Regions from separate parts of the Homo sapiens genome. Here region 2 is linked to region 1. Evidence: fine-mapped expression QTL. A gene starts in region 1. The other region holds a variant in brackets. All regions are shown on one strand. Distances are between the middles of the regions.

Region 1 (5,388 bases):
CGCCCAGCTTGGTAGCAACTTTTATACAAGGTCACAGCACCGAAAAGCAAAGATAACTGAGTATAAAGTACTTCCTGATCCAGTACTAATGAAGATGGGTGGGGGCAGAGGGTGGTGGCACTGCCTGGATTAAGTTTGTTTTAAAGTTCTCTCACATGATACTATATCCTCTTAGCCAAAAATTGTAAATTTCCTTTTTATTTTTATTTTTGTAGAGATGGGGGGTCTCTCTATTTTGCCCAGGCTAGTTTCAAACTCCGGGGCTCCAGGTATCCTCCTGCCTTGGCCTCCCAAAATGCTGGGATTACAGATGTGAGCCACCATGACTGGCCTGTAAATTTCTTCATATGGCCAGAGAAAGAAATATCAACTGGGAATATTTTAACCAGCTTCACATACTTTAAGCACTATATGGTCTTTGTTAATATCATTTTCCTCTTCTATATTGATGATGTTTGAAAACAAAGTGAACAGGCAATTAATCAAACAAAAAGACCTACAATGCCTTTCAGGGTCCACTGTGCTATCAAGTAAATAAATATTTTTGGAATAGCAGATTATTACACTGTAATGAGTTTAGCCTGAGAATACCATAGCCATTTAGAGTAGTTGGGGCTACAGGTATGAGCTGCTGCGCCCATCTTAGTAGCAACTTTTATAGAAGGTCACAGATAACGCCAAAACGCTAGCATCTGCTAGTGTGCACTGTATGCATGAGAGTCAGAGAAATTATTCCAGAAGAAAGACGAAAGGGGTGAAAGCTCTATTTAACTGCTCCCATTGCTTGATCCAGACACTTCTGACAGTCTGTTTTTACAGACATGGCAAAACAACACTTGGAAGTCATTTGAGAAAATATTCCTGGTATCACAGAGGTAGGCAAAAGGACAATTGATATCTGTTGAATATTTATGTTCATATTGATTAACTCTTTGAGGTTGCAGAAAGAATGAGTCTTCCTCCTCACTAGGCAAAGAGAAGACTGTTACAGAAGAGAGCATCTGACATGCAAAGCATAACACCGATAAGCGTGGCCAGGCCCAAGAGCAAGACTCAAACTTATTCTTTTTCTTAAAGAATCTAACCGCAGCCATGTTTTTCATTGTTATTTTAAGTGTGGGAGGGAACCCCTGCCTTGTTCTTTTTGAAAATCCTGATGCTTTGATAAAATAGTTTCTAAAATATTTCCTATCTACCTGCCCTGCTCTGTTCTGGCTATAATTACTAGGCTAGCCAAAAATAAACTCTCCCAAGTGTTACATCTAGTTGATTGTTGATTTCCTAGAGGGGGAAAAAATAAACTGTAGTAATTAATCATGGAAGCTTCTCTTTAAAAGAATGTTTACGTCATGGCTCAAGGCTCAAACTAGACCGGGTTTCTTATACTGCATATATTTTTGTTTTGTTCATTTTCTTCCTCTTTCCTCCCACCAAAAAACAAACAAACAAACAAACAAAGCAAAAAAAAACTGGAATCTGGTTTAAAGGGTCAAATGAGAGTTTTAGGTAGAAATACAAACTCTTGTTTCTTAATTCCACATTATATGTGGTTACTGTTTTGAGCTGGTGAAATTTGTTGAACACTTAGAATAGTCATCCAAGAACCAGGGGGGACAGAATTTTAAACCAAATAGTCAGTGATTTAGATATAGTTTTAAATTTTTAAAGCTTATTTGACTTTACAGTTCCATTGAATGTAGGATGCTCCATTCTTTTGAAGACATAGGACAATTTGTTTGTTTCTGGACCAGACAAATTTGGATTTCCTAGACCACCGAATAATAATAATAATAATTGCTAACATGTACTTAACTTGCACAAGGTGCAGTAACATGAATATCATGTGGATTGTCTTATGCAGCTCTCCAAATAATGCTGTAAGGTAGCATTGTGGAAACTGAAACCCCTAAAAGTTAACTTGGTGGTAGCTTGTAATTGAGAAATAGAATGTAAACCAAGGTGGTTATACTTAATGCCCTGTGCTCTTAAAACAGTATCATGCTGCCTCCTTGGAGGAATCCTTAATTCAAGTAGGAAGATTTTTCCTTATTACATCTTTGCGACTAAGTTACTGTTTTTATGACTTTAGGCAAATCAATTGAACTGAGCAAGGAAGGTCTTGATTCAATGATTTCTCAAGTCCTTTTTCCTTTTTTTTTTTTTTGTCAAGGGAGTGTCCTCTAGCTGAGTGAAGTCATTTTTCCTTGAATGACTGACAGAATGGCTTTGGTTCACCTGTAATTCACAGTTTAGCTGATCCAGTGTACTGTAAAGTCTGTTTCACTCCACCAGCCAACAAGGAGCAGGCGGCCGTGGTTTTCTCATGTTCTGGGGGAAGCTGTTTGTCAGTGTTAACCTGGCTAACTTTGGACAGCTGCAACAACAACATCTATCCCTTGGCATATGGTGTGTTTAGATGCTAAACACTGCCTCATCTGTGAGTACTTCAGTTTTTGTTTTTCACACGAGCCGGGTGAATATAAAAATAGAGGTAAATAAAAAGAAATAACTGAATCAGCAACCTGGAATTTTCTCTCCTCTGATTAAAGACTGTTGTTAACTGAAAATGCTCCACTAGTTGTTTGAGGGTTTAAGACAGAAAAAGTGGGATGGAGGTGTTTGATAATTTGGTTGCTATGCAACCACTTTACAATTATGTAAGCTCCTACCATATGAGGTGATACAGAAAGGGTGGTAGAGTATGCTGACGCAGTGAGCACACAGAAGACTTTTTTCATGTGACAGAGCCAGAGTCTGAGATCTGCAGTTGCAGAATATTTAGGTAAGAAGTAAATGTCACAAATTATAAAGGCCTTTATTTATAGCAAGAATATGGGATTTCTATTACAGAGTTGGATGAGCAAAAGCTCACCAGAAACAGTATTAGTTTCAAGGAAGGAAGACACACACATCTGTCCTTTGAATCAGGACTTACTCTAACCAAAATTCAGGAAAGATTTTTTAAAAAAGGAAACTAAGAATATGGTATACTTTATTATTATTTAATTAGCCTTGCCCAGTTGAATCTTTTTCAGTAATATTGTAAGGTAGGTGGTACTATTATCCTTATATAAATGCAAAAACGTAGGCTTAAGCGACATTCAGTAATTTGCTCAACATCATATAGTTGGGAGTAAATCTGGGCTGTGAACACAAAACTTTTAGTTCAAGTCCAGTATTGTTCTCATTACATTATGCTTCACAGATGATCATGTACCCTCAGTGTTTCTTTCATATTATACGTTCTATCTTTTATGAAATCCACTGATCTGTTGAAAATCTTATTTTTATTTGTTTTTGCTAGATATCAAGGGTTTATCTCTGACCCTTCCTGGTGGGTTTACTGAATTTCAGAAAAGGCTACCTAATTGATTTTATTGCATATGTTGTAATTTATTGCGTATGTCATTTACTCAAATATGCAATTTATTGCATATATCATTTTAACGTTAACTGAAAGAGAGAAAGTGTGCATAGTCTAAGAAACAAGACAATTGCAAGTTATTCAAAGTGGTCTTTACAATTTAGCCAGCCAAAATCTCTGACTCATGGATCTAATGCCAAGATGACAGCCTCACTGAGGAAGTTTCTTGGTGCGTCTGTTTACAGCTTGGCCAAAGGGCAAGTGGACACTTCTTTTCGAAGGGGTGGTATTATGCTCTCTGGATTTAGAAAAGATTAGTTAACATCATAAAGCTAGAGTTAGATCAGCATGATGTTATGTAAAACATAGTGTTCCCTAATCTTGAGTCACAATAAAGATTAGGTTTGTGTGTTAGGATGATGGTTTATCACATTGTGTAATGTCTGTATGGCTTTCACATATCCCGTATCCATTCATTCTCATTATGATCAATGAAGTAAACAGGGCATATTTATTCACTTCATTTTTGCAGATAATTGAAGTAATTAAAGGAAAGGAAGCTTAGGGACATTAAATGACTTACCTGAGGTCCCATCTGGGCAAGATGGCAAGCCAGGCATCAGCTTTATCCTCTAAATAAAGTTCCAGTCTTTTTTCTTGTCCCTTTGCTGTTAGAATCACTGGTGGCCTTACCACTAACCTTCCTTCTCCTCACTCCTTATCTTCAACTTACTTCTTGCGGGTACTCTTTGTACTTTTGTCATGGGGAACCAGGGCCACTGAAACTAAATTTGTAATTACATGAAGTTAGATTAGGTTGGTTAGATCTTAAAATTGAACTATATGCAAATAAACATGGGGTTCTGTGTCAATTTCAAACACTTGAATGTGGCTTTCAGAAAAATCTTGGATGAGAACTCTAATGTAGAACTCAAAGGAATTACAATGTAATTATTTCATAATTGTCCAGCTGAATTCAACAAACCACATACTAGTGCTAATTTATGCATAAATCACAGTATTAGATACTGTGGGAGACAAAATAAATAAATAACATATTGTCTCTGCTCCTTGGTGGCTTATTAATCATGGGAAAAAGAAGCACATTCTTTACTTTCTATTCTTTGTTCCCTCCCTTGTTGCATTAAGGATTCAAGAAACTCACCATAATAAGCTTTAGTAAAACAAGGTCCCAGGTGCTCTGGCCTTCTTACGTTTTACCTCCCCCTCTTCTTTTAAATAACCAAATACAGTATTTTGTGTCACCAAGCTACATTTGGCTATAGGAAATTTAGCTTTCTCCTCACCCCTAATATTTCTGAGAATTCTCAGGAAATATTTAAATGTCATGATGAGCACCTCTCAGTTCCACTTCTTACTCAAGAAGTTCCTCTTCTTGCTCAATATTCTTTTCATAATCACTTCAGACTCTCTCTCTTCATTGCTTTCTGTACAGGATGTTCCAAAGCTCTTTAATTCACTTTATTATAAAACAGTGCCAACACAGTCCTGATGTATCTGCTGAATCAGCTCTATATTGCCACAATAATGACATGTAGCCAGCAACCACAAAACCTTAGTGGCACACAACAATATATGCTTTTTCCTTGTGTGTCTTGGGTGGTCAGCTTTGTGGCTTTGCTGATCTCTTTTGGGCTTGCTGTCATGTCTAGGAGTCAACTGGCTGTCATCTGATTTAGTAATAGCATTGTGGCAACTAGGGAGGCTCAGCTGTGCTTTCCATGTCTCTTGTTTTCTAGCAGGCTAGCTGGTGCATGTTCTCATGGCAGAGGAAGAGGGCAAGCACAGGCATGCACACTCGCATGAGTGCTTTTCAAGATCTGCTGTATCCCATCACCTAGTCTCCCATTGCCAGAATGCTGGCAGACCCCAGCATCAGAATAAAAGGACACTTCAAATTCACATGGAAAAGGCTATGGAGTGAAAGATAAATTTAGGAAGATAACAAGTATCTAAAGATATTGAGGGGACCGTGTTCCTGCCATTTTGAAAAATCTACCACA
Region 2 (5,388 bases), 20 kb after region 1:
GATGCTGAGACTGAGGTGAAAACAGAATTAGAAAGGAAACAATACTGAGCTTCAATTTCTTTAAACTTAAATTTAAAATATGGACAGAAACTTTACTTTTGGACTTTAATTTCTTTCTGGGATTTAATAATGGAAGTGAAAGGTTCATTTAAAAACTGGGCTGAGGATGTTATTTCATAACCAATCTCTGGTGAGTGTTTTAAGACTAATGGCTGAGTACATTTTGAAATAGGAAATAGAAAACGATTTTTTGGCGTAGGTTGTACCATGTCTATAGAATTAGATAATTTCTGTCTCTTTCTGACCTATTTCAAAGATCACTGGGTCCAGTGCTAAACTCCCCAGTTCACTGAGTAAGGAAGACACAGGGGAACAGACATAAGCAGGCTCATGAAGGTGGGGAAGGCTGGCCCAGATGCTCAGCTGGTCTCCCCAAGAGAAATGCATGCCCAAACATAGGCTTGGCTATTTCACCCAATGGGATATGAAGAAATAAAATATTGGAGAGTGAGAACTTCCCTGTTTTTCTCCTGAATTTTTGCTTCTACTAATAGGTTTAATAAAACTTCTACAAAAATATCTTTCCCCACTTGAGGGAGAGTTGGAAGGGAAGGAACACTTCCATATTTTCTCTCCAATCCATTCCTTTTTCAATCCTGCATTAGATTCTTAGGGCTGCCATAACAAAGTACCACAAACTGGGTGCCTTATTATTTCATAATTATTATTTCATAGTTCTTGAGGCTAGTATTCTGTAATCAAGGTGTTGGTTGGGCCATGCCTTCTTCTGAAGGCTCTAGGAAAGTATCCTTCATTGCCTCTTCCTAGCTTCTGGTGGGTGCTGGCAGTTGGCATTCATTCCTGGCTTTGCAGCTGCATCATACCAATCTCTGCCTCTGTCTTCACATGGTCTTTTGCCCACCTGTGTGTTTCTGTGTCCTAATGTATCTCTTCTTATAAGGACACAAGTCATTGCACCAGGGTACACACTAATCCAGTACGATCTTATCTTACATTGTTTTTTGTTTGTTTGTTTGTTTGTTTTTTGAGATGGAGTCTTGCTCTGTTGCCAGGCTGGAGTGCAGTGGCACGATCTCAGCTCATTGAAACCTCTGCCTCCTGGGTTCAAGTGATCCTCCTGCCTCAGCTTCCTGAGTAGCTGGGACTACAGGTGCATGCCACCACGCCCAGCTGATTTTTTGTATTTTTAGTAGTGATGGGGTTTCACCATGTTGGCCAGGATGGTCTCGATCTCTTGAACTGTGAACCACCCACCTCAGCCTCCCAAAGTGCAGGGATTGCAGGTGTGAGCCACTGTGCTAGGTCAATCTCATCTTACATTGATTACATCTGCAACGACCTTATTTCCAAAGAAGATCACATCCGTAGGTTCTCGGGTTTAGTACTTAAACATTTTTTGGTGGGGCGCAATTCAACCTATAATACTGTCTCATAGAAGAGATGGTAATTCTGGTAACTTAGAACTTGACATTCATTGATACATATTGATTGTTGGGTAGGCTCTTTATGCTTTATGGTTCAAGCTGGAGGATATGCCACACTTAGTTTACTTTTTGCATCCAGGCACAAGTGGCTCCATTGTGTTTGGTGTGGCTGAGTGGTATTTATACCTGGCAGGCCTACCCACATAGAAGAGAGAACCACTGTTCTCTGACTCAGATACAACTTCCTGCAACTGGGTGATCAATTCATATTGGGCCCAGGCTATGGAATCAGCTGCCTTCAGTTCAGAGGAAAGGGACTAGGAAGTCTCACTTCTGCTTCAGATCTAAACTGCGTTCTCCAATGCAGTTTACTAGAAACATCAAATTTGGAGGGGTGAAGCCTGCTGGTCTGGTTTAATCAGGTAGTGCTTCGTTTCCTATTTAGGTTGTACTCCTGCATATGTTCCAGTACTGCATACCTATAACTCACTAAAAGGAAGAACTTATGGAAGAAGTGGCATTTGAGCAGAGATCTGGACACAGTGAATTAGCCAGCCATGGTAAAGTGTTGAGGGAGAAAATTCCAGACAGGAAACAGCAAGTGAAAATGATGAGAGGTGGTAACAGAGAGAATCTACGTAAAGGTCAGAGCTACCTGAGAAGAGTGAACAAAGTGAAGTGGGTTAGAAATGAGGTCATAGAGGGACCCAGGGTATAGAGTATGTAAGGCCTTGTAAGACCTGGCAAAATCTTTGTACTTCATTCTAAGCGTGATGGGAAGCTCTAGACAGATTTTGAGCAAAGGGGTGACATTCCATGATTGAGGTTTGGAAGGGTCATCCTGGTGTGGTGTGGAGGAGAGAACATAGAGACAGACGGAGAGGTAATGGTGAGGAAAAGTCAGATTCAGAAGGCGAAAATGTCAGGCTGCGGCTGTTTGGATGTAGAGTGACAGATGAACACTGTTTGATTCCAAACAGTGGACAGATCATTAAGTAAAAATTCTTGTTAATTATACAGGTTGAATAGCACAAAGTTGTGTCTCCCTGGAGACAACTTCAGAATATGACCTTATTTGGAAATAGGACCTTTGTAGATGCAATCAAGTTACACTGAAGTCATACTCAATTAGGGTGGTCTCTAATTCAATGACTGGTGTACTTGTAAGAAGAGGGAAACGTGAACACACATGCACAGTCGAAAGAACATTGTATATAGATGGAGGCAGGAATTGGAGTGATGCAGCTGCAAGCCAAGAAATGCTAAGTGTTGAAAGAAAAACTTTAGACAAATTAAATGTAATACAGCTTGTTTGGGCAAATAATGATTTGTGAATTGGGCAGCCCTACCCCTTCAATCAGAACAAGCTCAGAGACAATCTAGCACCACACTACCATGTGGTTGGAGAGGATTTATGGAAAGAAAAAGGAAACTGACCTACAGAAATTGGAAGTGAGGTACAGAAACAGCTGGATTGGCTATAGCTTGGCATTTCTCTTATTTAAGCAGGGTTTGAACAGTTGGCTACCAATGATGTGCTAAATCTCTGTGACTGTTGGAAGAGTAAGTTACACTCTGTTTACAC[G/A]TACAGTTAGCTACTGTTCACTATGTATGGAGAAACCTTTAGGCTGAACTTGACGTCACCTAATCAGTTCTTCCTGCTTGCTACACTGCTATACAGACAAAAATCAATTCACTGAGACCATGGCATTGCAATAAAGACAGAGTTTAATTGACACAAGCCCAGGCATATGGGAGAACTGGAGTTATCATTCAAATCAGTCTAAGAACTCAGAGGCTAGGGTGTTTTGGGTTTTGTTTTGTTTTGTTGTTGTTGTTGTTTTTGAGACGGAGTTTCGCTCTGTCGCCCAGGCTGGAGTGCAGTGGCGCGATCTTGGCTCACCGCAAGCTTCGCCTCCCGGGTTCACGCCATTCTCCTGCCTCAGCCTCCGGAGTAGCTGGGACTACAGGCGCCTGCCACTGCGCCTGGCTAATTTTTTGTATTTTTAGTAGAGACGGGGTTTCACCGTGTTGGCCAGGATGGTCTATTTTCTGACCTCATGATCCGCCCGTCTCGGCCTCCCAAAGTGCTGGGATTACAGGCGTGAGCCACCGCACCTGGCCCATGTCAGACTTCTTTTACTGCCATAATCTTTGCAAAGGTGTTTTCAAACTTAAAATATGTAAAGAGGCAGCTTTAGGCTAAATTTAAGTCAAGGATTGCCAGTAAACACTAGATGCAGAAAGAAGCAAAAGAGGATCTTGTCCTAGTACCTTTAGAGAGAGCATGTCCCGGCAGACACATTGATTAGAGGTTTCTAGCCTCCAGCCTGGCCAGCGTGGCAAAACCCCATCTCTACTAAAAATACAAAAATGAGCCGGGCATGGTGGTGTGCGCCCGTAGTCCCAGCTACTCGGGAGGCTGAGGCAGGATAATTGCTTGAATATGGGAGGTGGAAGTTGCAGTGAGCCGAGATTACCCTACTGCACTCCAGCCTGGGCAACAGAGTGAGACTCTGTCTAAAACAAACAAGCAACAACAACAAACACCTAACATGCTAATTAAGATGAATATTGATATTTTGTTTTAGTTTGCTTTTCTTGAGTGCCATGACTTTAAGTCCTTAAGTCCTCTGAGCAGTAGCTCTTCTTTTTAGTTTTCTGTTCACACCCTTAGCTTTTTCACCATTGTTGTCTTTGTGTTTCCTCATTGATATGTATGAGACCTTTTCTACAAAAGGTTTAACTCAAGGCTTCATTTCCTACAGTGTAGTAAGGTAAACTATGTGTGGAAGTCTTTTGCAAACATTTCAGATTTTGTTTTTTATTTAAGCACAGATTTAAAAAAAAAAAAAAAGATATGGACATGTTTTAAAGGAATTTGAAAGAAAATTTCTCCAAAACTAGAATTGCTCATTTCACTTGCATGGTATTATAATATTGGAATGTATAACTGCAAAAATACTGCTTTCGGTAAAACTAAAAAAAGAAGAGATTCCTGTGGAATATATATCTTTTCATACACTATGCTTGCATATGAATTTTATCTCTTCAAAGAAAAAGCCATGCTTTTCTAGTGCTTCTATTCTATATGTATGGAGGAGGCAGAAGAGGAGACTTCAAAATTAGTGACTTTGCATAAGCACTGAATTTAGACTGAGATAATTTTTGGAATGAACTCTGAATTTAATAAAAATAAATACATAGTTTAAAATGTATAGTACATGGTATGCACTTTGAAGCTATGTACTTTCTTCAAAAAGTTGATGTTTAATGTTTTAAGTATAGAAATCATGTTTATAGTTTTTCTGATTACTTGCATTAAGCTAGAACTGATTCCAACTACTTATTCATACATCAAACTAAACTTTTAAAAACATGTGTTGTAAACATCATTGGGCTTTGTCTATGTGTATACACTGTCTTCCCAAATACAAAACCGAAAGTCATGGGCCATGCTTACCTACTTCATTTGTATAGAAGACTCTCAATTTTTGGATGGATTGTCTTAAAAAGAGTTATTTGTAAATTGTTCAAAAATCTGAGATGAATTAGCCGTGACTTAAAGATAAGGCAAAAATGTCACTGAATGTTCTTTCACTGTTATACTAATCAGCCTGCATGAGAGCATTTAGAGGTTGCAACTTTCGTTGAATTTACTTTTTTTTTTTTTTTGAGTTGGAGAGTTGGAGTCTCATTGTGTTACCCAGGCTGGAGTGCAGTGGTGCGAGCTCAGCTCACTGCAGCTTCCACCTCCTGTGTTCAAGGGATTCTCATGCCCAGCCTCACAAGTAGTTGGGACTACAGGTGCGTGCTGCCAAGCCTGGCTCATTTTTTGTATTTTTTTTTTTGTAGAGATAGGGTTTCACCATGTTGGCCAGGGTAGTCTTGAACACCTGACCTCAAGTGATCCCCCTGCCTCAGCCTTCCAAAGTTCTGGGAT

Evidence for each region.
Region 2: its variant is fine-mapped to the expression of LINC02471 in esophagus mucosa (GTEx, PIP 0.94).

The regions. Positions count from the first base shown.
Region 1 is chr12:40,153,907-40,159,294 of GRCh38, forward strand. LINC02471 (long intergenic non-protein coding RNA 2471) reads left to right here and starts at 2,333. Exons shown (of 2, transcript NR_146526.1): 1 at 2,333-2,437. LRRK2-DT (LRRK2 divergent transcript) reads right to left here. Exons shown (of 9, transcript NR_186757.1): 5 at 4,672-4,812; 6 at 3,948-4,149.
Region 2 is chr12:40,173,553-40,178,940 of GRCh38, forward strand. The region is part of intron 1 of LRRK2-DT (LRRK2 divergent transcript); the gene reads right to left. Among named protein-coding and RNA genes, the nearest start is that of LINC02471, 20 kb to the left of the region's middle. The variant G/A (reference allele first, on the strand shown) is at 3,031.